Linked DNA regions of Homo sapiens. The protein of the gene in region 1 interacts with the protein of each later gene in a biochemical or structural test. Each region holds a gene or a part of one and is shown on either strand. Other genes may lie near its edges.

Region 1 (3,653 bases):
TAAAATCTGATACACAGTATAACAATATGATTATACAAAACACATGCAAATATATCAAGTACACATCTGTAAAATGTATTTCACTCTCTTATCTAAGACCTAGCTGATACCAACCTAGCTGATCAGTCTGGGACTTAAGGGAAGACTGAAGCAACTAAGCACAAACTGCTGAGCATATCGCAGAGGTTTTGTTATCATCTTCAATGTTTTCTTTCCTTAATAGTACTCAACACACTGAAAAACTACCCCCAAACAGCCACACACTGAATAAAAGTCATAGGCTCCATCATTCTCTAATCCTAACTTCATTTTTTCTTTGCACATAACATGACACTACCGGTGCCACTTTCTTCCTTGGAAGTCTAGAAAATGTGAAAATTGCCCACCTGAATTTCAAATCCAAATGTTTCATTATCCTGCTTCTCCACAGTAACAAGCTTTCTGTAATAAAAATGTTTAAAAAAGAAACTGCATGAAAATTAAAGTATCACATTTGGCACAGATCTATCATTAAAAATAACTGTCACAATTAAAAATAACTGACATTTATGTAAATTGTAGTATGTAAGATTCTGTGTGTGTGTCTGTGTGTGTGCGTCTGTGTGTGTGCGTAGAGAGAGAGAGAGAGAGAGAGGAAGAGAGAGGAAAAAACAGTCTGGAGAGCTATGTTCCTAAATATTTTGGGAGAGACAAAAAATAATTCAATCTCTTTACCTTTGAGACCAGGAAAAGTCACTTAAAGAACTTGATCTGGTCAAAGCAAGCTGAAAAACACAAAAGACATATAGTTATCCCAGGGTCTTCAAGATACACTGTAAAATGTTCTAAATCTCTCTCTCTCTCTCTCTCTCTCTCTCTCTCTCTCTCACACACACACACACACACACACACACACACACACACACACACACACACAACCTGTTCTTTACCACCTTCTTTGGCCCAGCTCCTGGGAAATTGTTGCATAAAGGCAGCCATTTCCATTCTCTACATTCTCTAGTGATAGCAGAGGAGAGTAGGGAGACAGGATTCTAGGCATTCCAGTTAAAAGATTGAAAGAGGTTTAGATAGTAATACAATGTGGCAAAAGAGTTAAAATAATGTGGCAAAACTCCAAAGCTTCCAAAGAGAACTTCCTCTCTGGTCTGTATTTAAAACAGCCTCTGAAAGATTAACCATAGCAATTTGTAATCACACTGAAATCCAAAGAAAAATAGCATACTTAGAATGGCATATGAAACCCAAATACTTTATAGTTTTTGGAGATGATGATGAAATGACAGTGTTTACTATAATAATTCAATACGTTACTGTTTTTAGTAGGATAAAATAATCTCTAAACAACCAACTCACACACACAATTCAGGTAAAACCAGGAACTCAAAACCTCATTTCTGCTTATGATTTATTTTTGTAATAGTTTTGGAAGACTAACGTGAAATTTCCAGCCAAGAAAGGAAAGAAACCTCAGAATAGTATCAATGGTATAAATAATATCACCTTCATTCCTCTGCACTTTTGGAAAAGATCATATAAACATAAGCTTTCAGGACACATTCTACCACTGTAAACAGAAGCAGCATCAACAAAAGGTGACAACTTATTTTTTAGGAAAATTGCAGCAGGTTTTTGTGTTTTTTTGGTCGGTTTGTTTCTTTGTTCAGGAAATGTTTATTAGCCCTATTCTCAAATGTTGCTTCAAGGGCCCAAAACATAAGCTACTAGCTAACCCATGGTTTTTAATTGTCAACCTGAAATGGTTGTCATATATAAATGAACACATAAAATATCAAGAGATCAATGCATAGTCAGTCCAGACAAAGCAAAATAAAATAAGTAAAGGATGAAAACTAGAAGGGGGAAAATATGTAGGAGATATTAATGCTTATGTGACAAGTTACACAAATGAAATGCTTATTAAGACATTCATTAGGAGTGAAGCCTACATCACTGTAGGAATTTTGAATTACCAGGTACCAAATGCCAGCATTTTCACAAATTTCCTGGAATGGACCAGTGTTAAGAATTCAGCCACCAGTCCATAAACTTAACGTAATGGAGAGGTGGTCTCTTCTTACCAATTTGCTGTAAATTAATTATATTTTCCTCTTTTGTTAGTTCTGGGCTTCAACTCACTTATATCGCAATGGAGACTGAAATAAATTGCTCAGACCCAAAAAGATTCTCTAGTCTTGCTAAAAAGTATCTCTTTTCAATTTATAAGCACTAACTGTGGAATGCCTACAAGGATTGGTATGGTTTGTTGTAACCTGATTTTGTACCTCGTATGTACCGTTACCAAGGATAGGGACTATTCATCTATGTTAGTGGGCTTCCTTGCAGAAGAGAGCCACAAACTTGATATTTCCAAGCATTCTCAGTCTCTCCCTTATATTGTACTCATATTTTCTTAATCTATTTTTATTATCTTCAGCTGCTTGTTTTCCGCCCTTAAGCCAAATTACGTAATGATAACTAGGGCTTTTTTATTCTTTTTATAAAAGTTTCTTATACCTCTATAAATAAGGGCTTATATTTTTAAGGTATTACTCTTGCTATCAGTATTCATCATATTATTCATATATCCATATAGAGAGAGCTATATATATATGTATACATATATGTATATATTTATATGAAATGCATACTGGATCAAATACTTCACATCTGTACATAATCATCTGTGTGATTTGGACCTCTTGGGGAATGTTATTTGTTTTACTTTCTGCCCCAATGCCCAACACAGGGCCTGGAATAGAATGGAAACTTAAAAATGGAGAAATAGATAAAAATAAATAAACTACTAAACGAAAATGGAAGCAACTGAGATGGTTGAAGAGCCACATTAAATATTCACGTTCAGGAGAAATATGTAAAGATAGTCTTCAACATTGTCCTTTATTAAATTCAATATCATAGGAAAAACTCAAGGATAATCACTAAAATACATAAAGTAAAATTTAAAAATCTTAAATATGTAGCAAGATTTAAAAATGAAAGAAAACAGACAACTGTATATCCATATGCAGAAGAAAGAAACTAGACCATACCTCTCACTCTATACAGAAATCAACTGAAAATAAGTAAATGGATCAAAACCTTCATGTAAAACCTGAGACAATAAAACTACTGGAATAAAACATAGGGGAAAGGCTTTAGCATATTGGATTGGGAAAAAATTTTATGAATAAGACCTTCAAAAAACAGGCAACAAAAGCAAAAATAAACTAATGGGGTTATATTAAACTAAAAAGATTCTGCACAGCAAACAATTAACAGAGTGAAAAGACTACCTGTGGAATGGAAGGAAATATTTGCAAACTACTCATTTATATATCCAGAATATATAATGAACTAAAATACCTCAACAGAAAAAAAAAAATTTAAAAATGGGCAAATGATCTGAACAGACGTTCCTCAAAGGAAGCTATACAAGACTGGGCATGGTGGCTCACACCTGTAATCCCAGCACTTTGGGAGGCCAAGGAGGGTGGATCAACTGAGCTCAGGAGTTCAAGATCAGCCTGGCCAACATGGTAAAACCCCGTCTCTACAAAAATACAAAAATTAGCCAGGCATGATGGCAGGTGCCTGTAATCCCAGATACTAGGGAAGCTGAGTTGGAAGAATCGCTTCAACCCGGGCGGCGGAGG
Region 2 (3,653 bases), on another chromosome or scaffold:
CGTGGTGGCTCACGCCTGTAATCCCAGCACTTTGGGAGGCCAAGGTGGGTGGATCACAAGGTCAGGAGTTCGAGATCAGCCTGGCCAATATGGTGAAACCCTGTCTCTACTAAAAATACAAAAATTAGCCATGCCTGGTGGTGGGCGCCTGTAGTCCCAGCTACTTGGGAGGCTGAGGCAGGAGAATTGCTTGAACCCAGGAGGCAGAGGTTGCCGTGAGCTGAGATTGCACCACTGCACTCCAGCCTGGGTGACAGAGGGAGACTCGGTCTTAAAAAAAAAAAAAAAAAGGGTGGCCAGGTGTGGTGGCTCATGCCTGTAATCCCAGCACTTTGGGAGGCTGAGGCAGGCAGATCACCTGAGGTCAGCCTGGCCAACATGGTGAAACCCCGTCTGTACCAAAATTACAAAAAAAATTAGCTGGACATGGTGGCATGTGCCTGTAGTCTCAGCTACTCGGGAGGCTGAAGCAGGAGAATCGCTTGAACTCTTGATTGAACCCAGGAGGTGGAGGTTGTAGTGAGCTAAGATTATGCCACTGCACTCCAGCCTGGGTGAGAGCGAGACTCTGTCTAAAAACAAACAAACAAACAAAAAACTGCAGGCTATTTGTAACCTTGATTAGCCTCTTATAACCCCTGCACCCTGCAAAGCTATGGAGCACTTTTCAGACTCCAGGAGAAAAGGGAGATGCAGCAGCTAAGACACAGCAGCATCCCAGAGACACTGCCAGGCTGAAGGGCAGGATAAATGCACCCACTCAAAAGCATCTTAGTGCCAGGTGCTTTGTGCTACCTGGCAGATGTGGAGAGAGTGAGGTAGCCGACAACCCTGCCTGGATGAGCAAACTCAGCTGGGAAATGGGGCAGGGCTTAGGGTTCTGTAGTTGATGTCATACCTCCAGAAGGCAGGGTGCAGGTGCGGGGGCCAGTTCCCAAACCCTGAGCCCCGATAATACCACAGAATGTTACAGTCTGGAGGCCCCATCTTCAGTGTAACCACACAGAATGCCACTGCAACTCCATCCCGGGAATTCCCCATGGAATCTCAGGAAGGCCACACCTCCTGGGACATTACTTGGGATGTCATCGTGGCTCAGACTGCACTCTTGGGGACATCATGCACGATGCCAAATTCTGCACCCCCGGCCTCCAGTAATAGCACACTGAATGCTTTGGTGGCCCTGCCCACAGTAATATCACATGAGATGCAAAATTTCAGAGGTTCTAATAATGTCACCTAAAAAGGCTTGATGGCTGGCCCCTAGTGACATTAGCAGCCCCACCCCTAAAGATACCTCATGGAATGCCAGAGACTCTGGCTGTACCCTCTGTGACATCACATGGAATGGGCTGGCCCCTGCTAATATCACATAGAATGGCTTTATGACCTGACTCCCACCATACCATGTTGGAGGTCCCCAACCCCCATGACATCATGAGGAGTGCCATGCAGGCCTGGCCTTCAGGGACATCACAGGAAAGAGGAGGCTCCGGACCCCACCCCCTACAAGCTGTGGCTGGAAGTGTTCCTTGGCTTTGCCTCCCAAACATGCCCACCAGCCAGTCCTCTGGGCTTCTCTGGGCACATCCCAGTCACCTTCCTGGCTATAACCCAAGGACCAAGCCAGCTCCTAGTGTTGGCAGAAGCTAGATTCAGGCCAAGGCCCGAGAACCATCCTAGAAGGAGCCCAGAGAGGCTCTGGGGACAGTCCCTTGCCCCAGGTGCCAAGCCTGGGTGGGCCTCTGGCCAGGCTCTGGGCTTACAGACATGGGTGGAAGCTCCTGCCAGTCCCCTCACAGGGAAGCCCCTTCCAAACCAGGATGCCCTGCAGTCACCAGTCACCAGTGTCCAGCCCATTCCCAGATGGGCTCTGCAGATGCAGCCCAGGAACTGAGTTGTTTCTGCACGACCACATTACGGGTCACGGAAACACTGCCCTACACCACGTGGGTGATGACGGCAAGACCAGGACAGCCCTCTCCAATTGCTGTGAACCTGCCATTTCAGCCCTAGGGGCTGTGGTGCCCTCTTTTTTTTTTTTCTTTCTCTTTTTTTTTTTTTTTGAGACAGGGTCTTGCTCTGATGCCCAGGCTGGAGTGCAATGGCATCATCTCGGCTCACTGCAACCTCCGCCTCCTGGGTTCAAGCGATTCTTCTGCCTCAGTCTCCCCACAGTAGCTGAGACCACAAGCGCATGCCACCATGCCCGGCTAATTTTTGTATTTTTAGTAGAAAGGGGGTTTTACCATGTTGGCCAGGCTGGTCTTCAACTCCTGACCTCAAGTGATTGGCCTGCCTCAGCCTCCCAAAGTGCTGGGATTACAGACATGAGCCACCACACCCAGCCTGTGGTGCCCTCTTAAAATACTGGCCACCTTGTGCCCACAGCGCCCCTTCCCCTGCCCTGGAATCTGCAGAGACAGGAAAGGACAATATAGAAACAGACGTCTGGACTGCCAGGAAGCCACAGCATCTGCTTTGCAAAGTCCAGCTTGCCCTCCAGGCCCCGCAGGGGCATCTTAGAGCTACTTGAGATTTCTTAAAATACACATAGCCCTTACCCCCAGACTCATTGCCATAGCCTCTATTAATGACAGGAGTGTATTGCTGCCTTGAGTGTAGAGGTGAACAAAGTGTAAAAACCAACATCAGTGAAGGAAAGCAAAAGAGTTTTCTAGACTGAGAGGGGACTCCTGGGGGCAAGTTGAGCTGCCCAGCCAGGCCTGTCCTGCAGAAAATCAACTTTCCCTACTCCTCTATGTGATCCCCAACATTTTATTATAGACATTTTTGCAGATTTCTAGGCAGGAAAAGTAGAAAACATTCTAAAGTGTATACCTGAACACCCGCCACCATGGCTGTACCATAACATTTCACTCGCTTTGCTTTATCACACTCCATCCCTCCACATCCATCAATCCATCTCATTTGCCGGGCATTTCAAAGAAAGTTGCAGGTACCAGCATACTTCTTTCCAGGGCGAATTTTGCAATGTCTGTTCTGTCCTAGTGAACTGCCCATGGGGCTCCCCCACAGCAGGACACCCCCACAGCAAGGCTCTCTCACGGCAGGGCACCCCCAAATGCCCATCTACAGAGAAGGGGTCGTCCCCCTGCAGGGCTGGGTCATTGCAGACCCCACGCAGAAAGGCTGTGGCCTCGGTCACAGAGGAGATGCTGACAGGAAAGATGGGAGTTGTGTCCAGAAGATCATGATGACAGCATGAGCAAGGGCAACAGAATGATATCCAAGAGAGGCTGGGGCCAGATCAGAGGGGCCCTCTGCAGGGCTATCTGACTGTCCTCCCTCTGGAGCTGCCTCAGAGACATCTTTCTCCCACAGGCATGGGTCAGCGGGCACCAGCCCTCCCCACCAGGTCTCCTCACTTCCCCTCACCTAGACCTGCCTGGCTCTCCCTCATCCTCAGGTATGGGCCGGGGGGATGCTTGCTCCCAAGGGAGAGCTCAGCCTCCTGGGGTCTGGTCAGTAGCCAAGCCTCTGACCAGAGGGAAGTGGCTGAGCTGGATCCCCTGCCCAGTGCCTCTCCCCTGCAGCTGTGTCTGCTTGTCAGGGCTCAGCTGGCCTGGCCTTTGGCTGCCCTGAGTAGGGTCCAACATCCCTCAGGGTGGGGGCTGGGGGTGCTGATATCC

The links. The genes of interacting proteins can lie anywhere in the genome.
Region 2: the proteins of CYTIP (region 1) and LDB3 interact in a test that uses a peptide from one of them, tested with the Homo sapiens proteins (one large-scale study listed by IntAct).

Annotation. Positions count from the first base shown.
Region 1 is NC_000002.12:157,433,984-157,437,636, forward strand, and holds part of CYTIP (cytohesin-interacting protein), read right to left. Parts: intron 765-3,653; coding exon 715-764; intron 442-714; coding exon 387-441; intron 1-386. UniProt on the Homo sapiens protein: By its binding to cytohesin-1 (CYTH1), it modifies activation of ARFs by CYTH1 and its precise function may be to sequester CYTH1 in the cytoplasm.
Region 2 is NC_000010.11:86,674,978-86,678,630, reverse strand, and holds part of LDB3 (LIM domain-binding protein 3), read right to left. Parts: intron 1-3,653. UniProt on the Homo sapiens protein: May function as an adapter in striated muscle to couple protein kinase C-mediated signaling via its LIM domains to the cytoskeleton.